4 separate regions of the Homo sapiens genome follow, and all the other regions are linked to region 3. The links come from fine-mapping of genetic effects on gene expression. A gene starts in region 3. Each other region holds a variant in brackets. All regions are shown on one strand. Distances are from middle to middle.

The links. PIP is the estimated chance that this variant, and not a neighbour inherited with it, causes the effect.
Region 1: its variant is fine-mapped to the expression of ADA2 in whole blood (INTERVAL, PIP above 0.99).
Region 2: its variant is fine-mapped to the expression of ADA2 in caudate (GTEx, PIP 0.95).
Region 4: its variant is fine-mapped to the expression of ADA2 in whole blood (TOPMed, PIP above 0.99). The same link has a PIP of 0.9 or more in blood mononuclear cells.

The regions. Positions count from the first base shown.
Region 1 is chr22:17,172,354-17,178,257 of GRCh38, forward strand. No RefSeq gene overlaps it. Among named protein-coding and RNA genes, the nearest start is that of HDHD5-AS1, 16 kb to the left of the region's middle. The variant CAA/C (reference allele first, on the strand shown) is at 2,482.
Region 2 is chr22:17,193,881-17,199,096 of GRCh38, forward strand. All of the region lies in intron 4 of ADA2 (adenosine deaminase 2), which reads right to left. It overlaps LOC107985573 (a long non-coding RNA gene), which reads right to left and starts at 4,909. Exons shown (of 2, transcript XR_001755419.2): 1 at 4,719-4,909; 2 at 4,181-4,535. RefSeq lists enhancers at 1,440-1,955, 4,506-5,010, 5,011-5,216. The variant T/C (reference allele first, on the strand shown) is at 2,405.
Region 3 is chr22:17,215,910-17,221,813 of GRCh38, forward strand. It overlaps ADA2 (adenosine deaminase 2), which reads right to left and starts at 3,526. Exons shown (of 10, transcript NM_001282225.2): 1 at 3,447-3,526. RefSeq lists enhancers at 2,903-3,263, 3,104-3,173, 3,184-3,313.
Region 4 is chr22:17,239,123-17,244,555 of GRCh38, forward strand. No RefSeq gene overlaps it. Among named protein-coding and RNA genes, the nearest start is that of ADA2, 22 kb to the left of the region's middle. RefSeq lists enhancers at 4,367-4,426, 4,447-4,706. The variant C/G (reference allele first, on the strand shown) is at 3,162.

The sequences.
Region 1 (5,904 bases), 44 kb before region 3:
CCAAGGTCTTTGCACGGTTCCTCAGCAAAGGTGTTTTGGAAGGCTGGGTCCCACCCCTTCCCGGCGGAGGAAGAGGCTATTGGCTAAAAAGCCTGGACAAATTCAAAACCAGCAGCTCGGCCCCGGTTTTTTCGGAGCACAGCCAAACCCAAATCACACCTCTGCACCTACCTAGCTCCAGAGATCTAGACAGCATTTACAGCCCCCAAATGTTATTTTTACACCCTTTCCAGGCAGGGAAGGACAGAGGAGGGTAAGCTATTTTTAGGATGACTGCTATTTAAAGTAACATACTGGCCTGGCAAGGTGGCTCTGGCCTGTAATCCCAGTGCCTTGGGAGATACAGGCAGGAGAATCACGTGAGGCCATGAGTTCAATACTATCCTGGGCAACAAAAGGAGACCCCCATCTCTATTAAACAGCCGGGCGTGGTGGTGCGCGTCTGTCGTCCCAACTACTGGAGAGGCAGGCTGAGGCGGGAGGGTCCCTTGAGCCCAGGAGTTCAAGATTATAGTGAGCTATGATCACAGCACTGCCCTCCAGGCTGGGCAGTGAGACCCTGTCTCAAAACAATAAATTAAGTAACCTAGACTATGTATGTGAAAATAATATTTCCAACCCTAGCATGCTGACTTCATCTGAGCTTACAGATGCATTTTCATACAGTCCTCCCCAAGGGATCAGTTCCTGTGAGAGCCAAGGATGGCACCACTCATTGAAATCCTGACCATGGGAAGGCGTCATTTGGGATTCCGGAATGGGTGGCTGAAGCAGTTTACAGAATCGCGTTCTGGTGAGCTTTAAGAATGGAACAGGCGCCGGGTGCGGTGGCTCACGGCTGTAATCCCAGCACTTTGGGAGGCCGAGGCAGCCAGATCACTTGAGGTCAGGAGGTCGAGATCAGCCTGGCCAACATGGTGAAGCCCCGACTTTACTAAAAATACAAAAATTAGCCAGGTGTGATGGCGCGTGCCTGTAATCCCAGCTACTAGGGAGGCTGAGGCAGGAGAATCACTTGAACTGGGATGGTGGAGGTTGCAGTGAGCCGAGATCATGCTACTACACTCCAGCCTGGGCGACAGAGTGAGACTCAGTCTCAAAAAAAAAGAAAATAAAAAGAAACAGGGACATCTTCCTGAGGAAGTCTCGGGCTGCTCTTCCTGAAGGTGAGGCTGGTTGCATAGTCTTTCAAGGTCCCTCACAAGCTGAGGCTCCTGTAAGTTTTCTCTTTTCAGCTAGTCTTTTCAAACGAACACACCTCCACCTCGCTTTCCTCCTTCCAAATGAAGAGCTGATCTAGAGCAGGCGCAGATCCAGATTTTGGGGCAGTCCTGAGGTTTATACATATTTGAAGGGTCTTCTTAAGGAAAAAAGAATAAAATCTGACTAACACACATTTCCTCTGAAATGGCAGCTTCGGGAGCACTGCTAAGGTAGCCGAGCCCTCCATTCCAGTGGCCACTTCCAGTCTAACAATTCCACCGTTTTCTCTTCTTTTTTCAACTCTTTCCATTCCAGTGGCCACTTCCAGTCTAACAATTCCATCGTTTTCTCTTCTTTTTTCAACTCTTTCCATTCCAGTGGCCACTTCCAGTCTAACAATTCCATCGTTTTCTCTTCTTTTTTCAACTCTTTCCCTCTTCCTGCCCATTTTTTTTATTTGTTTTGTTTTGGATGCTTGTTTGTTTGTTTTTGAGACAGAGTCTCGCCCAGGCTGGAGTGCAGTGGCATGATCTTGGCTCACTGCAACCTCCGCCTCCTGTGTTTAAGCGATTCTCCTGCCTCAGCCTCTTGAGTAGCTGGGATTACAGGTGCCCACCACCATGTCTGGCTAATTTTTTTTATTTTTAGTAGGGACGGGGTTTCACCATGTTGGCCAGGCTGGTTTCGAACTCTTGACCTCAAGTGATCCACCCGCCTCAGCCTCTCAAAGTGCTAGGATTGCAGGGATGAGCTACCATGCCTGGCCATAATATTCCCATTTTAATATGCATAAATTGTATTTCTGTGTCTACACACACACACACACACACACACACACACTCCAGTAACAATGAGCACATCTAGTGCCTAGATCAGGGCTACTAAATATTATTCTCTACTGAAAGGAACAGAGCTCCCTGGAGAAATGGCTGAGCTCAGGCATGACACAGGGAAAGTACAAAATGAAGGTAGAACATTTTATTGCGTAAGGAAGAATGGCCAGATGCAGTGGTTCACACCTATAATCCCAGCACTTTGGGAGGCTGAGGTGGGCAGATTGCTTGAGCTCAGGAGTTTGAGACCAGCCTGGGCAACATGGCAAAACCCCATCTCTACAAAAAATACAAAAATTAGCCAGACGTGGTGGTACGTGCTTGTAGTCCCAACTACTAGGGAGGGTGAGGTAGGAGGATCTCTTGAGCCTGTGGGGTCAAGGCTGCAATAAGCTGTGATGGTGCCACTGTACTCCAGCCTGGGGGATGGAGCAAGACCCTGTCA[CAA/C]AAAAAAAAAAAAAAAGGAAAAAGTAAGAAAGTTCTCAATTATAGAACTTTATCAGCAGCCAACTTAACAGGGCTCCCATGGCCAGATCTGGAATAGTGTAAGCATCACAATAAATAGTGCTAGTAATGGATTATAGCTCATTGAATACAACCTGAATCCCTGAGTCGTACAGCTAGAAGGAAAAAAGGGGCCGGGCACAGTGGCTCACGCCTATAATCCCAGCACTTTGGGAGGCCGAGGCGTGCGGATCGCCTGAGGTCAGGAGTTCGAGACCAGCCTGGCCAACATGGTGAAACCCTATCTCTACCAAAAATACAAAAATTAGCTAGGCGTGGTGGTAGGCGCCTGAAGTCTCAGCTACTTGGGAGGCTGACGCAGGAGAATCACTTGAACCTGGGAGGTGGAGGTTGCAGTGAGCCGAGACTGCACCATTGCACTCTAGCTTGGGCAACAAGAGCAAAACTCTGTCTCAAAAAAAAAAAAAAGGAAAAAAGGAAGCTGGGAGGGAAGGAATTGTTCTTCCTTGCAGCAAAATGGCAACTAATATGGAAGAAATGGTAGAATTAGAAAATCACCATTTTGGCCAGGCACAGTGGATCACGCCTATAATCCCAATGCTTTGGGAGGCTGAGGTGAGAGGATTGCTTGAGCCCAGGTGTTTGAGCCATATTGGGCAACATAGTGAGACTTTGTTTGTATCAAAAAAAAAGTTTTAATTAGCTGGTTGCGGTGATGCATACCTGTAGTCCCAGCTACTTGAGACGCTGAGGCTGGAGGATTTCTTGAGCCCAACAGGTCAAAGCTGCAGTGAGTCGTGATCATACCACTGCACTCTAGCCTGGGTGACAGAGCGAGACCCAGAAAAAGAAAAAAAAAAAAAAAAAAAGAAGGAAGGAAGGAAAAAAAAATCACCATTTGATGGTTGTATTTTCCAAAATATTTTCCAACGACTTCTCTTATCCTATATATTCTTTTTTATAATGTGACTTTGACAATCTTCTATCAAAAGTTGGGATCTCTGTCTCCTCCGCTTAAAACCAGGAGGTGTTTTTTGTTACTGTTGGGACCAACGAAGTATGGCAGAAATAATGCCATGTGACTTCCAGAATCTTCCATTTATTCCGTGGAATACTTACCCCAGAAGTTGAGGCCAATGGGAAGAAGCCCAAACTAGCCATAGGAGAGCACCAGCTGAGCCCTGGGGCTGTGCAGAGAGGTGACCCCTGGCGGCCCGTCAGCTCCAGCTCTGCCTCCACTGTGACAAGGACCTCATGAGAGACCCAGAGCAGAACTGTCCAGCTGGGCTCTGCCCAAACCCCTGACCCACAGACACTGGGAGAGATCATAAATTTGTTTGTTTGTTTTGGGTTTGGTTTTGAAATGGAGTTTCACTCTTGTTGTCCAGGCTGGAGTGCAATGGCACCATCTCGGCTCACTGCAACCTCCGCCTCCCGGGTTCAAGCTATTCTCCTGCCTCAGCCTCCCAAGTAGCTAGGATTACAGGCGTGCGCCACCATGCCTGGCTAATCTTGTATTTTTAGTAGAGACGGGGTTTCCCCATGTTGGTCAGGCTGGTCTCAAACTTCTGACCTCAGGTGATCCGCCCGCCTCGGCCTCCCAAAGTGCTGGGATTAAAGATGTGAGCCACCACGCCTGGCCCCATAAATTTTTATTTTTGTTTCAAACCACTACGTTTTGGGATAATTTGCTACACAGCAATAAACGGAACAGCAACCATGATAGTAATAGCAGATTTAGACAAAAGTCCTCAGTGGATGCAAGCACTAATGGGTAAAGTTTTAAGGAGGAGTGAAGACTTTTACATAAAGTGTCTCCTCTCCAAATATGTGTTAATTACTAAGGGAAAAATGGTAACTTCGCAATGGCAAATTCTGGCAGAAATCAACTTAAGCGATCAAAGTCAGTATCATATTGAGACAAATTAACATTGTATGCATCAGTATGCTGGCAAATGTGTAACAGCTGGCTGGTGGGGACATGGATTTGTAACATTTGCTGATTTTTGTGGCACAAAAACTCCCACAAGCCTGGTGTCGTGGCTCATGCCTGTAATCCCAGCACTTTGGGAAGCCGAGGCGGGAGGATGGATTGAGGCCAGGAGTTTGAGACAGGCTAGACAGTATAGCATGATCCCATCTCTACAAAAAGTAAAAAGAAAGAAAACTTAGCCGAGGTGGCGGTGCACGCCTGTAGTCCCAACTACTTTGGATGCTGGGCAGGAGGATTGCTTGAGCCCAGGAGGTAGTGGCTACAATGAACAGCGATCCTGCCACTGCACTCTAGCCTAGGCAATGGAGTGAGACCCCTGTCTCAAAAAAAAAAAAAAAAAAATTCCCATCAAGACCAATTCCAGACTCCTAAAGGTTTAACAACAAGCTGGAAGTATAACACTTGGCCCCATTCATGTGCCCCTGGTGTGTACACTGAGAAGGACAAAGCCTCGCTGCCAAGGTGCTCCTCTCAAAAAGGTATCCCCTGAGCCTCTTCCTAGGGAAACATTAGATGAACCTGAAATGAGGGATAGTCTATGAAGTAACTGGCCTGTACTCTTCAAAAATGAGGTTCCAAAACACAAAGGAAGACTAAGAAGCTATTTCAGACTGAAAGAGACTAGAGAGTTGACAGCTAAATGTAACTTGTGATCCTGGATTGGGTTCTGGACCAAGAACAAAACAAAACAAAGCTCAGCAGGGCCAGAGCCAGATACTAGCGTCTTTTCAATGTTAATACTTTTCTGATTTGATTGGATGTACTGTGGCTCCATAGGAGAATGTCACTGTCTTTAGGAAATGTGCACTGGAGAATCTAGGAATAAAAGGCATAATATCTGCAACTTAGTCTCGAGTGGTTAAAAAAAATAGGATATATAGAGAGAGCAATTAGAAACAGAGAAAGAATGATATATGGAATCAAATGTTGTAAAATGTTAATAACTGGGGGAACCTGGGCAAAGAGAATGTTAGAGGTTTGTGTTGTTGTTGTTGTTATTTTTGTTTGTTTTTTTGAGACAGGGTCTCGCTTTATTGGCCAGGCTGGAGTGGAGTGGTGTGATCTCAGTTCACTACAACCTCCTCTTCCTGGGCTCAAGCAATCCTCCCACCTCAGCCTTCTGAATAGCTAGGACCACAGGCACACCCCACCATGCCCAGCTAATTTTTGTATTTTTAGTAGAGATGAGGTCTGGCCATGTTGCCCAAGCTGGTCTCAAACTCCTGGGCTCAAGCAATCCACTCGCCTCGGCCTCTCAAAGTGCTGGGATGACAGGCGTGACCCCCTGTGCCTGGCCTGGTAAGAGTTTTTTGTACTATTCTTGCAACTTTTTGAAATTATTTCAAAATGATCAGATAAATGCTCCATGGACATTTAGTTCAATAGGACTAGGCCTATGCAATGAGGAAT
Region 2 (5,216 bases), 22 kb before region 3:
GAGATAGACCTGACCCACTAAAAAGAGCTCACGCCTGTAATCCCAGCACTTTGGGAGGCCGAGGCAGGAGGATCACTTGAGCCCAGGAGGTCAAGACCAGCCTGGGCAATGAGTGAGTTCCTGTCTGTAAAAAGGAATGAAAAAAAAAAAAAAAAGAAACAATAGAATAAGTGCTAAAGAGAAGCACATGACCTCTCAAAAGAAGAAGCAGTTTGTTGTGACTGGATGGGTCAGAGAAGGTTGCTAGTCCTGACCAAGGGAATGGTGGCTCCACACAGAGTCAAGAGCTGCCTGGGGGCGGGGGTTCAAGGAGCCGAGGTTGAGAGCTGCAGTGGGAGCCAGGAGCTGTCCCCTCACTAAGGGAGAAATGCCCTTCCTCCTCCCGGGAGTCGGCTCTTGCCTCTGTGGCATCTCAGGAAATGGGCCCTTGGGAGTCCACCTCCTCTGCTCATTTCCCACCAGCCCCTTGCCTCACTCCTGTCTCCCCAGCCTAGGGGCCTCCCACACCCCTCCAGGCTGCGGCCATTGTGTGTCCTTTGTCTCTGGGCAGTCCCTCAGATCCCCGCATTCCCCCAGGCCTGCAGAACAGTACTGCTGCTCTCTCATCTCCAGGGTGCTGCCCCGCTGCCTGGGCAGGCGCAGTGGGGGAGCAGGCAGTGAGGCTCTCCACTGGTCTTTGCTCTTCTGTTTCCTCTGCTGCCCCCATGAAGCCTGGCACGTCACACAGCCCCCCACAACCTGCACCTGGCCAGGCCACTCACTCTGCTCGGGCAGTTTCCCTGACTGCCTGACCTGGCACAGCCATGCTCAGGGGCTACTGAACTTTAAGGCTGCCAGAGCGTGCCAGAAGGAAGAACCTTAGGTACTGTTCATTCAGGATCTAGTATTGTCTATTATTATTATTATTTACTGAAGAGGGTCAGAATATGTCACCCAATAGGCCACTTTAGCAGAAGAAATATTTTTAGCTGAAGGCAATTAAGAAGCAGCAAATGAAGAAAGAGCTCTTTGCCCACCTCATCTGCCTAAATTTCCCTTTGTGAAGGTGTCGCCCTCCCCTCTCCCGTACCAGGAGAATCACCCTTACCACCGGAAACAGAAAGTTGTTACCAAGATGGGTCTGCACAAACCAGCCTTATAAAATTGCCCTTATCTTCCATTAGTTTCCCCCATATGTTTGCCTGCCCACAATTTACTGTCCCTAGAAGCCCAAACCCCTTTTCCTTCATCTTGTCACTTCTTCACAATTTATTACCAGTTGTTAAAATGGAATATAAGCCCTCACTCTAACTTCTTTGGTGCTTCACGTCTTTTCAAGGAAGGCCTGCATCTATCTGTGCACATAGCAAATTCTTAGGCCGGGTGTGATGGCTCATGCCTGTAATCCCAGCACTTTGGGAGGCGGAGGCAGATCACCTCGGGCAAATCACCTGAGGTCAGGAGTTGGAGACTATCCTGGCCAACATGGTGAAACCTCATCTCTACTAAAAATACAACAATTAGCCGGGCGTGGTGGTGGGCGCCTGTAATCCCAGCTACTGGGGAGGCTGAGGCAGGAGAATCGCTTGAACCCGGGAGTTGGAGGTTGCAGTGAGCTGAGATCGCGCCACTGCACTCCAGCCTGGGCGACAGAGCAAGACTCCGTCTCAAAAAAAAACAAAACAAAACAAAAAAATTTTTTTAAACTTTTATTTTGCAACAGTCTTGCCGTGTCGTCCAGGCTGGAGTGTGGTGGTGCAATCTTGGTTCACTGTCTGTTTCACTCTTATTCTCTCATGGATGTACAGTAGAATTTTCCTGAAGCTGCATCATGTGTCATATCATTCTGACCGATAATGCCAATCATGGATTATGTGTTTGTATTTAGAATAATTTCTTTCCTTTTTTTTTTTTTTTTTGAGACGGAGTCTCGCTCTGTCACCCAGGCTGGAGTGCAGTGGTGCGATCTCGGCTCACTTTAACCTCCACCTCCTGGGTTCAAGCACGACTCCCGAGTAGCTGGGATTACAGGCACATGCCACCACGCCTGGCTATTTTTTTGTATTTCTGGTAGAGACGGGGTTTCGCCATGCTGGTCAGGCTGGTCTTGAACTCCTGACCTCATGATCTGCTCGCCTCAGCCTCCCAAAGCGCTGGGATTACAGGCATGAGCCACTGCGCCCGGCAAGAAAATTTCTTAATTTTGGCTGGGTGCAATAGCTCACACCTGTAATCCCAGCACTTTGGGGGGCCAAGGCGAGTGGATCACCTGATGTCAGTTGACCAGCCTGGCCAACATGGTGAAACCCCTTCTCTACTAAAAATACAAAAATTTGCTGTAATCCCAGCTACTCGGGAGGCTGATGCAGGAGAATCACTTGAACCCAGGAAGCGGAGGTTGCAGTGAGCCAAGATTGTGTGCCAT[T/C]GTACTCCAGCCTAGGCAACAAAAGTGAAACTCCATCCCAAAAAAAAAAAAAAAAAGGAAAATTTCTTAATTTTAACATCTAATACAGGATATATCAATAGATATAATCCACATAAATAAAAGGCGTTTGAAATTAACAAAAATTTTTAAGAATATAAAGAGGTTCTGGGACCAGAAAGTTGGAGAACCACTGTGTTAACCCAACCCACAATTGTTACCTGCAGTTGTCTTGGACTCATCCAGCTGGTTCACAGCAGGGAAGAATAGGGTTCTGTCCTGACCTTGACCACCCTGTCATTACTGAGTCTCCTGCCCACACCCCCCAGCTAGATTGGAGGCTCCTCCAGGGTAGAGTCCTTGCAGTTTTACTCTCCCCACCTCCTCTCCTATGGCACCAGAGCAGGAGCTCCATAAATAAATATTAATTCAAGGAGAGTGCTGTCCACAGGAGTTTTAAAAGTACTAAGGCCCAGGCAGCAAGGGCAAATAGACAGTTGTTGGCGGAGTGGTAGGTGGAGTCATGCCAGCAGAATAGAAGGGAGACCAAAGAAATAACCTTTAAAAAATATTAACAAATGACAACTCTGCTTAAAAGAAGATCTCTGAGGCCTGGCATGGTGGCTTATGCCTGTAATCCCAGCACTTTAGGAGGCCGAGGCAGGCGAATCACCTGAGGTCAGGAGTTCAAGAGCAGCCTGGCCAACATGGCGAAACCCCGTCTCTACTAAAAATACAAAAATTAGCCGGGCATGGTGATGGGCACCTGTAATCCCAACTACTCGGGAGGCTGAGGCAGGAGAATCACTTGAACCCAGGAGGCAGAGGTTGCAGTGAGCCAAGATCGCACCACTGCACTCCAGCCTGGACGACAGATTGGTTCATGGGGAAATTTGGGAGCAGAGTGCTGTAAAGGTCATACAACTGGTTTGTATCAGAACAGAAACAAGGACTCGCAATTTCTTTTTTTCTTTCTTTCTTTTTTTTCTTTTTTTTTTTTGTCTGAGACAGGGTCTCACTCTGCGGCCCAGGCTGCAGTGCAGTGGCATGATCTTGAACAGCCTTGAATTTCCAGGCTCAGGTGATCCTCCCACCTCAGCCTCTTGAGTAACTGGGACCACAGGTGCATACCACCATACCTGGCTAATTATTTTGTTTTGTCCTGTTTTGTAGAGACAAGGGTTTTGCCATGTTGCCTAGGCTGGTCTCGAACTCCTGAGCTCAAGGGATTCACCTGCCACCATCTCCCAAAGTGCTGGGACTACAGGCATGAGCCACTGCACCTGGCCAGTACTGGCAGTTTCACTCAGCTTTCACTACCAGAGTATCATTCACTTAAGAAGTGTTGAGCTTCTACTACATGCCAGGCATATGCAGGGGGCTTTATGCCATAATCTCATTTAACCCTCAAAACTACACTATGAGGTAGGTCTCATTTTACAGATAAGGATTTTGAGGCTTTAAAAGTTTGAGAAGGCTGAGCACGGTGGCTCACGCCTATAATCCTAGCACTTTGGGAGGCCAAGGCGGGCGGATCACCTGAGGTCACGAATTCGAGACCAGCCTGACCAACATGGAGAAACCCCGTCTCTACTAAAAATAGAAAATTAGCCGGGTGTGGTGGCACATGCCTGTATTCCCAGCTACTCGGGAGGCTGAGGCAGGAGAATCGCTTGAACCCGGGAGGCGGAGGTTGCGGTGAGCCAAGATTGCACCATTGCACTCCAGTCTGGGCAACAAGAACGAAACTCCGTCTCAAAAAAAAAAAAAACAAAAAAATTGAGAAACTCAGTACCCCTGCATAATTAGTGGGGCTGGAGGCCGACCACATTTCAGAATTTTGCTTGCCCTGAGTTGTCTCCTGTCATCAGGAGGCCCCTGCCCCCTCCTGTAGAAAGGTGACAGTCACTAGAGTGACATCTCAGCCCTGGCGGCACATTGGCATCACTCAAGGAGAGGAAAAATGCCTGTGTCCCACCCCAGAGCAACCAAATCAGAATCTGTGGGGTAGAAGCTTGGTGTTTGTAATCTCCCAGGTGGTGCTAGGGTGCGATATACAGCTGGGCTGAAGATCTGCCACTGTTCCAATCGACAGACAAGTAAATAGCACAATGACAGCATAGTCGGATGAGTCCTGTCAAAAAGGGAGCAGTTAAGAGGGTGCGTGTTCTCGTAAAGCGACACCAGCAACATGACACAGGGTTCGCTTCATTCAGCAAGGAGCCAAATGGAATTTTGAATGAAAGGTCTGCTAAGAATCCAGGCAAAAGCATGGGGGCTGGGGAGCGCGGGTACAGGGAGCACTAGAAATGCTTACTGTATGAACGACAACGTCTTAGAAAACGTCTGGGAACGACTGTCACAGGTTCTCTGCCACCGACGTGTCTCCCATAAGCTCTCCCCTCCATAAGTGCCAGCAGGGCCATCCCCTGTGGATAACCCTCCGGGGTCTTGGAAGAGCCCCATGCTAAAGACTCAGGGGACCCAGTCTGGGCCTCAGACTCTGCCGTGGGGGAAGGGGCCGGAGCCCAGGAGATAAGACCCGCCTAGCGACCGTTGCTACCGGCGAGCAGCCTTTGTTACTGAGCATTAGGAACACAATGGGAGGCTCAGCGGCCAGGATAGTCCGTCCACAGCAGCCCAGGCCGGAATTAGCCTGCGACCAGGCAGGGGGAGGCGAGGGGGCTCAGCAAAAGGATTCTAGTGAAGACTGTTTTTAGTTGTTAATGTGTTGGTGGCCCCCCAACTCTGGCTAATGGGGGGCATTAAGACCTAGACTCTCCGTGGCAAAAGCCTTTGTTCCAGGGTCAGACCC
Region 3 (5,904 bases):
GGCAACAAAGCGAGACCCCCATCTCTACAAAAAATTTAAAAATTATCGGCAGGCAGATCACGAGGTCAGGAGTTCGAGACCAGCCTGACCAACATGGTGAAACCCCATCTCTACTAAAAATACAAAAATTAGTCAGGCGTGGTGGCGTGCACCTGTAATCCCAACTACACAGGAGGCTGAGGCAGGAGAATCGCTTGAACCTGAGAGGCGGAGGTTGCAGTGAGCCGATATCGCACCACTGCACTCCAGCCTGGGGAAGAAGCAAGACTTCATCTCAAAATAAATAAATAAATATAATAATAAAAATTATCCATGTGTAGTGGTACACACCTGTACTCCCAGCTACTCAGCAGGCTGAGGTGGGAGGATCACTTGAGTCTGGGAGGTCAAGGCTGCAGTGAGCCATGATGGTGCCATTGCACTCCTGCCTGGGTGACAGAGTGAAACCCTATCTGCCCCACTCCCAGGAAAAAAAAAAACCTACAGTTAGATAGAAGAAATAAGTTCTAATGTTTCATAGTAGACTAGGGTGACTATACTTAGCAATAATATTATGTATATTTCAGAGTAACTAAGACCGGGCATGGTGGCTCATGCCTGTAATCCCAGCACTTAGGGAGGCCGAGGCAGGTGGATCACAAGGTCAGGAGTTCAAGACCAGCCTGGCCAACATGGCAAAACCCTGTCTCTACTAAAAATACAAAAACTAGCCATGTGGCGTGTGCCTGTAATCCCAGCTACTTGGGAGGCTGAGGCAGGAAACTTGCTTGAACCCAGAGGGCAGAGGTTGCAGTGAGCCGAGTTCGTGCCACTGCACTCCAGCCCGGCAACAGAGCAAGACTCCACCTCAAAAAAAAAAAAAACACACACACACACACACATATATATAGAGAGAGAGACTCAAATAAAATGGATTAAAGTTAAAATAAATAAATAAATAACAAATATAACCAGAGCACAAGATCATAAGACATGCTTCAAACTGAGAAAGAAACCAAAACAAAACACACAGAGATAAGGAACTGAGAGGAAACAAAGCAACACAGGAAATAAAAGAAAAACCTGAAAGAACTGTAATTAACATCCTTAAAGACATAAAACATTGTGTGTGTAAAACAGGAACAGGAGGTGATTAAAAAAATGAGAATTAGAAAGAACTTTCAGAAATTAAAAACAGCAAAGCCGAATGTTTAAAAATTTACTAGCAATATTAAAAATGAAGTTAAAGAAAATATTTTTAAAAGTAAAGCAAAATAGGAGAAAAGAAAATGAGATGATTATTGGTTGAAGAAATCCAACACCCAAATAACAGACATTTCAGAAGGAAAAAGAAAAAAAAAACAGGTGAAGGAAATAAGCCAATAAGGAATACAAGAAATTGCCCCAGAACTGACAGTCTTTAGATTGAGTACCTTGCACAGCACAGTCAATCATTCTGTGGCCACACCAAGGTACAGCATCTTGGTATTTCAGAGCATTAGCATTAGAAAGGATTATCAAAACTTGCAGAGAGCAGCCAGTTCAGGGTGGCAACGAGCAGGGACTGAAGGAAGGAAATGTATTCAGCATCTCCTCACACAAGGCTCTATGCTGCTCCTTTACCTGGGTTATCTATTTGAATTACATTTAAGAAGGGGCAGTGGCTCATGCCTATAATCCCAGCACTTTGGGAGGCTGAGGTGGGCAGATCACTGGTGCCCAGGAGTTCGATACCAGCCTGGGCAACATAGCAAAACCAAAATACAAAAATTAGCCAGGCGTGGTGTATTGAACCTGTAGTCCCAGCTATTCATGAGGCTGAGGCATGAGAAGTTCTTGAACCTGGGAGGCGGAGGTTTCAGTGAGCCTAGATTGCACCACTGCACTCCAGCCTGGGTGACAGAGCAAGACTCTGTCTCAAAAATAAATACGTAAATAAAATTTTTAAAATGAAAATAAAACGATTGTTTCTCTACACTTGAAAGTATGATACAGCATACTGGAACATGTCAAGACTGTAAATTAGGAGACCTTAGGAACAGCCTCAAATTAGTATCATTCTAACTGTGCAACCTTGGGCAAATCACTAACGTCTCCAGATCTCAGTGTCCTCACCTACAAAAAAGGTAACTTGGACAAGATCAGTGGTTTTCCAAGTGCAGCATGAATATCATCAGTGGCATAAATACAATCTTAGGTGGCTCACAAATGGATAGGGGTTATGTTGACAGATAGGTAATTTTAAAACATGTATTAGCACATCAAACCCATGATATCGTAACTATTATTGTTTTTGTTGAAAAATTTTTAAGTTAAAGAAAAATATTAAGTAAATAGAGGTGCAAGGATATGACAAAAATGGAAAGTTTGCTACTCATTAAATCATTTTAATATCCAAGATTCTTCCCAGCTCAGTTATTCTGTAGTACATCAGATAGCAAAGAAAATTTTAAGAAGGAACTAGTATCAGCAATATGCAGTTATGGCAGAAGCTGTACCCCCAAAATCAGAGTGCTGGACGTCAGCAGAACCCCTTTAACTTCATTAAGTCCTTGACTCTCTTTTTTGACCACGGTGTTTGCCTGCTACTAAAATCTCTAGGGCAGGAGCACGGTGACTTCTATGTCACCATCCCACCTACCCCATGCCACATTCTCCATCAACAGCCCCGCCCCTTGTCCCTGTCTCCCTGGTGACACATAACAAAGGCCATCAAGCTCCCAAATCTTCAACTCCATCCTCTCCAAGAAGGACCCCAAAAGCATTTGTGTCCCAGCAACTGTGAACTTTTCCAGGCTGCCAGACAGAAGTTTATCTAATGGTGGTCAAGACCTGCCTGGTTGAATACTAGTAAAAACAATCCTTATTCACAATTTATTGCTATATCTACTTCATCTTCTCTCCTCCACAAGATTTTCCTTTTACTTTTAAAAGAGGATGCATGAAAACTTCATAAAGTAGTTTGCTTCCAGACTAAGAAGAAAGGAGGCTGGGTGTGGTGGCTCTGCCTGTGATCCCAGCCCTTTGGAAGGCCGAGGCAGGCAGATCACCTGACGTCAGTCGTTCAAGACCAGCCTGGCCAACACGGTGAAACCCCGTCTCTACTAAAAATACAAAAATTAGCCGGGCGTGGTGGTGGGTGCCTGTAATCACAGCTATTAGGGAGGCTGAGGCACAAGAATGGCTTGAACTCGAGAGGCAGAAGTTGCAGAGAGCCGAGATCGTGCCACCACACTCCAGCCTGGTGACAGTGGAGTAGGCCACATGCATCTGTGGTCCTGAGTAAATGCCCTTGGGCCCATTTTCAAAAGCCTGTTGGGAGAAAGCCTGTTACTCCTCCACTGAGAGTCTCAGACCCAGCTCAGATGGAGACAGGGAGAGGTGCAGGTGGATCAAGCCCAAGCTCCGGACTTCCCAGCTACCTCCTGAACCTCATCATCCCACAGCTCCCAAAGGACCCCAGTTACCTCGGAACAGCTCCAGAAACTGAGGGCTGTTTGCTCAGCGCCCCAGCATCTGTGCAGAGCACCGGAAAAGCTCACCAACTGTTTCACTTCCTGTTGGGGTAGGTTTTATTTCCCTCCAGTGTGCACCAGGGATCCAACTAGAGGCCGGGGAGAGGGGCTCTGCAGTGCTGAGGCAGCCAGAGTGGCAAGTGTGTGGCTTACATGCATGCTTGCTGTGTGCATCTGAGTTTGATGTGGGGGGCTTGTGCGCATGTTCATGTGGGTGTTTGTGTGTTCGTGTGTGTTTCGGTTTATGTGCATGTGGGGTTTGTTTTTTTTTTTTTTTTTTTTTTTTTGTAGACAGAGTTTCACTCTTGTTGCCCAAGCTGGAGTGCAATGGCGCAATCTCAGCTCACTGCAGCCTCCGCCTCCCGGGTTCAAGCAGTTCTCCTGCCTCAGCCTCCCGAGTAGCTGGGATTGCAGGCGTGCGCCACCATGCCCCACTGATTTTTTGTATTTTTAGTAGAAATGGGGTTTCACCATGTTGGTCAGGCTGCTCTCGAACTCCTGACCTCAGGTGATCCGCCCACCTCGGCCTCCCAAAGTGCTGGAATTACAGGCGTGAGCCACCATGCCCGGCCGCATGTGGGTTTATTTGTGTTGGAGGGAGGGTGTGTGTGTGTTTGTGTGTACTGTGTCTTTGAAAGGTCCACAGCATGTTGGTTTTGGAAACAAGCACCGCAAAGAGGCACTCCAAAATCTGTTCATGAACTCTGGGAAGTTCTCCTTCCTCAAAATGTGATTGTGGACTGTGGGGCAACCCATTAGACAGAGAGTAAAAAGTAGCTATAATAAAATATATGTTTTAGGGGGGAAATCAGGGATGCGGGGACAGGACAGTAGAGGGGGCAGGAGGTAGGAGACAAGAGCTGGGGTGTGAAGAGGACCAGCAAGAACAACGCTCCAAGGGACAAGTGGAGCAGACAAGGCTCCTGTACCCAGGACGGTCAGAGTCAGACCTCGCTTTGTAGCTGGCCTTAGCACTGTAGCAGTGGGGCCTCGACCAAGTTGTTTCAACTCTCTATACTTCAGTTTCCTCATCTGAAAATGTGGATAATAAAAGCACCCACCACAGAGGGTCCATTGTCAGAATTAAAGGAAAAACACATGCAAAGTACCTGCCACATAGAAAGCTCTTGATAAATATTAGCCATGACTATTCTTAGAAGTAACTATTGGGATGCCTCATCCAAGCCAATTAGAAATGCAGACATGGGAGGCTACACCAGGGACCTCCATGTCACATGCATGGTCTAAAGACTCGATTGCACCCCACTCCTCCCCAGTCCCACTCAAATCTACCCCCAAGACCCCAAATCTACCCCCAAAAGCCCACGGCAGTTTCAGTTCTGCAGCTCCCATACATCTGGAGCCTTGATGCTCCTTTTTGTCATTTTCTCCAAAAAGTACCAAGGTCATTCATTTAATAAACAGGAAGAAATCCCAAAGTGAAAACACAGAGGGGTCAGGGATTCCCTCATCAAGAGTTCAAGACTAGGCTGGGCTCAGTGGTGCATGCCTGTAATCCCAGCACTTTGGGAGGCCGAGGCAGGTGGATCACAATGGAAGGGGTTCGAGACCAGCCCCTACTAAAATACAAAAATTAGGTGTGGTGGTGCGCACCTGTAATCCCAGCTACTTGGGAGGCTGAGGCAGGAGAATTGCTTGAACCCTGGAGGTGGAGGTTGCAGTGAGCTGAGATTGCACCATTGCACTCCAGTCTGGATGACAGAGTGAGATTTTGTCTCAAAAAAAAAAAAAAGAGTTTAACACTAATTTTTTGAAAGTTAGAGGAAGCAGAATGCACCGCAAGTAATAAGGAGAAACAAGATTGATTCCAGCGCCGCACAAAGGGAAACCACCAATTCTGAAAGTAAATCATGTGAAGGGTTTTTTGTGGGTTTTTTTTATACTTTAAGTTCTAGGGTACATGTGCACAATGTGCAGGTTTGATACATAGGTATACCTGTGCCATGTTGGTTTGCTGCACCCATCAACACATCATTTACATTAGGTATTTCTCCTAATGCTATCCCTCCCCCAGCCCCGACCCCCCCGACAGGCCCTGGTGTGTGATGTTCCCCTTGAAGGGTTTTTTTAAAGACCAGGTCAAAGCTAAAGATCAAGCTTTTCTTTCCAAACGCTTTAGCTAAAAGTAGGAGCTAATTTTCACATCTCCGAAGGTGGCTCCAGGACTCCAAGTCACACCTTGGCAAGGGTGTGGCAGCTGGCAGAGGACTGCAGGTCCTTGTCAGGCAGAACCTGCCGGGTTCTGGGGAGTGGAGACTCAGATCTTGAGGTGGAAGCAGAGACAAGAGCTGGGCACACTTACCTGGATGTGGGGTTGGGAGCGGTGAATCAGAGCCCAGTTAGATCCTGGAGGCTGGCAGCAGGCTCTGCAGAGGTGCAGGGGCACCTC
Region 4 (5,433 bases), 23 kb after region 3:
ATCTTCCTAAAGATCTCCGTGCCCTAATCCTGAAAATATGTTGTATTATATACAGCACAGAGAACTTTGTAGATCTAATTAAGGTCATGGACCTTTAAATGAGGAGATTAGCCGGAATTATCCAGGTGAACCCAATCTAATCCCATGATCCCTTAAAAGCACAGAGCTGTATATGGCTGGAGCCTGAGAGATTCAACATAAAAAGCCAGAGATTTGAAGGGTGGGAGGGACTCACGGCTGACAGAAAGCATGTCAGGGAGAGCAGGCACCCTCCAGGAGCAGAGACTTTTCCCCAGCTGACAGCCAGCAAGGAAAGAGGGGTCCCAGTCCCACAACCTCCAGGAGCTGACGTTAGCCCACAACCTGCATGAGTGTAGGAGAAGACTCCTCCAGAGCCTCCGGTCAGGAATGCAGCCCTGCCAGCACCTTGATCTCAGCCTGCAAGATCTTAAACAGAGAACTCAGCTGAGCCTCCCTGGACTTCTTATTTTTTAATTTAGAGACAGGGCCTTGCTCTGCCCCACCAGGCTGGAGTGCAATGGTGCAAACATTCATAGCTCACTGGAGCCTGGACCTCTCAGGCTGAAGGGATCCCCTCACCTCAGTCTCCCTCCTGAGCAGCTGGGACCACAGGCACGTGCCACCATGCCTGGCTAATTTTTGAAAAAATTTTTTGTAGAAATGAGGTCTCGCTATGTTGCCTAGGCTGATCTTGAACTCCTGGGCTCAAGCGATCCTCCTGCCTTGGCCTCCCAAAGTGCTGGGATTGCCGGCATGAGCCACTGCACCTGCTTTATTGTGATTTATTCTCTACAGTATTTTGTTAGAGTTTGGCTGGGTGTGGTGGCTAACACCTCTAATCCCAGCACTTTGGGAGGCGGGAGGATCACTTGAGCCCAGGAGGTCAACGCTACAGTGAGCTATGATTGTGCCACTGCACTCCAGCCTGGGCAACAGAGCAAGCCCTTGTCTCAAAGAAAGAATAAATCACACTGGATTAAAAAAAAATTTTCAAACATGAGTCAAGAAGCAGCCTGTGAAATATCAGGCTCAGCCCCAACTACATTTCAGGGCTAACTAGGCCCAGAGACCCACTGTTGGTGCTATTTCGTCAGCTCTTATCCAGGACCCTGATCCAGGCTCTCCTCAACATTCGCAAGAGAGTGTTTGAGAAAGAATGGTTAAAAGCAAGTGTTCAGTCGCACACACTCAGAGAGATGGCACAGTTTGTAATCCTAGCTCTGTGGGTCTCAGAGTATGGCCCCTGGCCAGACTCAGCAGCCTCACCTTCCCAGACCTCCCGACTCAGAAACTCCAGGGCGGGGACTCAGGAATCTGCTTTAACCACCCCTCCAGTGATCCTCGTGCATGGTCAAGTTTGAGAAGCATTGTATATCCTAGCTGAATCTTTCTTTAGGATGGATATCTTCCTTGAGGATGGATAATGCCATCTTTCTAGGATGAGTGATGGAGCTGCAGAGGCATTTCAGAAGGTCGGTCACTAGGTTTCAAGGGCTTAAGGTGACACAGAAACTGCAGTGTTGTAGAAGCAAACCAAGGACAACAGTGCACCCAGCTAGGTTAGATCAAAGTGGCGGGTAGCGAAGGGGAGTGGCAGCCTCCCTTTCACAGAAGGTTTGCTATCACACCCCACCCGCAGACAAAGCCCCCTGGGTATCACACTGAGGGGCCATGCACGGAAGGTGGGCACCATGCAATGAGGCAATCCACACCAGCCTCAAAGGTGCTACTCTCTGCTAGTCAAAGTCTACCTAGAAGACACTTCCAGACAAAGGCCAGCCTCAGTAACCAAGACGTGCCTGCAATGATTAACTGAACAGTTTTTTAAAACCTGGAAGGTGTTTGTGTGCTCAGATCACATCCTACGTGGTTGGGCAAAAGCTGGCAAAGTGTGACACATAGCTGACACTGGAAAACGGGAATCCAGGTGAAAAACAGTTTTCTAGGTGCAGGTAGGAGAAAGGGGGCAAACAAAATCTGACAGATACACGAGAGAGAACTCCAGGGTGTTGGCCAGGCGCAGTGGCTCACGCCTGTAATCCCAGCACTTTGGGAGGCTGAGGCGGGCAAATCATGAGGTCAGGAATTTGAGACCAGCCTGGCCTACATGGTGAAACTCTGTCTCTACTAAAAATACAAAAAAATTAGCTGGACATGGTGGCGGGCGCCTGTAATCCCAGCTACTTCAGAGGCTGAGGCAGGAGTATCGCTTGAACCTGGGAGGTGGAGGTTGCAGTGAACTGAGATCATGCCACCACACTCCAGCCCGGGCAACAGAGTGAGACTCTGTCTCAAAAGAAAAAAAAAAAAGAACTCCAGGGCATAAACTGCATGGGAGTCCCCTACCCTCTGCCCCTTGGGCCCAGGTCTCTCAATTCCATACACTCAGAGTTGGATCTCTTAAACAAACAGGCAATTGCCCAGATGGCCCGACCAGGCCTCCACTCATTGGTTTCTTTCTGGTCCTCTGACTGTTGTGCCTCGCCTGTCTTTCTCCCAGACGTTGTTGGAATTCCCACCTCCACATGCCCACCCCTAGATCCAGCTTCCTGGCTGGTGCCTGGGAGCGTGGCTTCTGCCCGCCCACTGGCCTGGCCTCAGAGGTCTGCCCTACCCTGACGCTAGCAACTGCTCAGACTAGGCAGCCCGTGGATGGAACTGCCTGATGCTGTCCTCCCATGCAAAGAGAATGGAGCCCTGGAAGAAGGCTCTCTGGAGTCACCCCAACAAAACACCATGTGAGCCTTGCACTTCCTTGCAGTGTGGCAGGGCACATCTCACATGGGTGCTTGCAGGGATGTGGAGGTGGGAATGTGAGAGGGTGGGGAGGGGTGTGGAGTGGCCAGGATCCAGGGGAGAATGCCCCACGGAGACAGAGACCCTTGGCTTGGTATGAAGGGAGCACAAGAAGGAGTAAATCCAGGACACGGCTAGACTGTGGCACCCCTGTGGGAGTGCCCGCACTTAGGGACACATGACCTTGGGGGAATTCTGGACAGCTTAGAGGCTTACTCCATGACAGAAGATACTTCCCTTCTGGAGACCTCAACTTCTCTCTGTGTTAGTTGGCTGAGGCTGCCATCACACAATATCACAATCTTGGTGACTCAAAAAACAGAAACTTATTTCCTCACAGTTCC[C/G]TGGGCTGGAAGTCCAAGATCAAAGTGTTGACAAGCTTGGTTTCTTCTGAGGCCTCAGTGTGCCAACAAGGACCCTTGCTGTCTCTTCCCACTCCGAATTTCCTGTTCCTATAAGGACGCCAGTCAGATTAGATTAGGCCCACCCTAAGGGCCTCCTTTTAATTTAATCACCTCTTTAAAGGTCCTATCTCCAAGTACAGTCACCTTTTGAGGTACTGAGCATTAAGGCTTCAACACACGAGTTTTGGGCCAGGAGTGGTGGCTCACAACTATAACCCCAACACATTGGGAGGCTGAGATGGGAGGATCCCTTGAGCCCAGGAGGTCGAGGCTCAGTGAGCTATGATCGTGTCACTGCACTCCAGCCTGGGCAACAGAGCAAGACTCTGTCTCAAAACAAAACAAAACAAAACAAAACAAACCCATGAATTTTGGGGGAGACACCACTCAGCCAGCAACACTGTAAGTATGGAATACTAATACCAACCTATTTCACTAGTTGAGGGAAGTGATTTCAGAAGAGGGGGCTGAGATTTGTCATAATCAGCAGACCAAGTTTAGATGTAAGTACCTCCTGCAAAATTTCAGAAAGATCTGTCTTGTCCTTTGTCAACAGAAAAAATCACTCCTTCATGCAAGCATTTATTGAGTGCCTCTCTGTGCCAAGTTGGCTCACTGCAATGCAGATATTATCTGATCTAATCAAGGGGTATTTATTGAGTGGCGTTGGAGGTTAAAGGAGTATCAAACAAACTTGATCCCAGTCCTGAAGGAGCTTGTAATTCTTGCTGGAAAGGCAAGACCAACTCATAGGAAACAACAGGAACAGCAGCAGGTGATATACAACTGAGTTCTAAATTGTGTGGTGCAGACTTCAATTGCTGCTGGAATTGGGAATGAGGAAGATCAATGAGGGAGCGGGTCAGCACCAGCTAAATCACTTAGACTGAGGCATTCATCAGCCTGAGCCATTGTTCACGCTGCAGACTTTCTGTTCAAAATGGTAAAAGCCAGTCCGAGGCTGGGCACGGTGGCTCACGCCTGTAATCCCAACATTTTGGGAGGCCGAGGCGGGCGGATCACATGAGGTTGGGAGTTCGAGACCAGCCTGACCAACATGGAGAAACCCTGTCTCTACTAAAAATACAAAATTAGCCGGGCGTGGTGACGCGTGCCTGTAATCCCAGCTACTCAGGAAGGCTGAGGAAGGAAAATCTCTTGAACCCAGGAGGCAGAGGTTGCAATGAGCTGAGATCACGCCATTGCACTCTAGCATGGTCAACAAGAGCTAAACTCCGTCTCAAAAAAAAAAAAAAAAAAAAGCCAGTCCAAAAGCCTCAGTCACAGGGATGACTCAGGACCTTGAGTTTCATTTCATGTTTCTAATGTCATGAGACAACCGTGGGCCTCGCCCTGCTCAGCAGAGTCCTACCCCCCACTTTCTCCACACAGCTTCCCCTACTCAGGGTACATGAAAAAGGGGTTCCCCACCACAACTCTATGGCCACACCCCAGGGGGCAAGTTCAACCAACAGGCCAGGCGAATGAGCCCCATCTGTGCCCCATTCCCACCTGATCGGACCCCACAGCCCTTTGGGAGCACTCAGATACTGGTGAGAATGCCCCTGTTTGCTTGGGGGGCCCGTGGCTACTTATTGACGGCACAGGGCATCTGTTGAGAAGATGCAGGCAGGGGAGGGAAGGAGAGAAAGACAAGAGGAGCCTATGCAATTGGCGAGAGACACAGAGGACAGAGAACATGGGGAACTGAGGACTAGAACGGATTTCTGGCCTGACCCGTTCTGGGGGACTCCTTTTAGACCAGGGGTCTGTGTTGGCCCGTGAGTGCAGCTGGGCTCTCTCCACCTCTTTTCAGCCTCCTCTGCCACTCTGAAAGGCCCCAGGTTTTATTCCCGGTTCACATTGCCGCACCCATAACCCAGGGAATGTGGCAGCCCCTGCTGGGGTTTCACAGGCGTGCAGAGGGTGCCTCTGGGTAGGGCTTCATTCCTCTATGGGCAGGAGTCCCTGGGCACTGACCACGCCCTAGTGACAGCCAGAGTGCCTTCATTCCAAGTGCTATATTAGCAGTATCTTAAAAACCTGTCTGAGCCGGGCGCGGTGGCTCACACCTGTAATCCCAGCACTTTGGGAGGCTGAGGTGGGCGGATCACGAGGTCAGGAGATCGAGACCATCCTGGCTAACACGGTGAAACCCCATCTCTACTAAAAGTGCAAAAAATTAGCTGGGCGTGGTGGCAGGCGCCTGTAG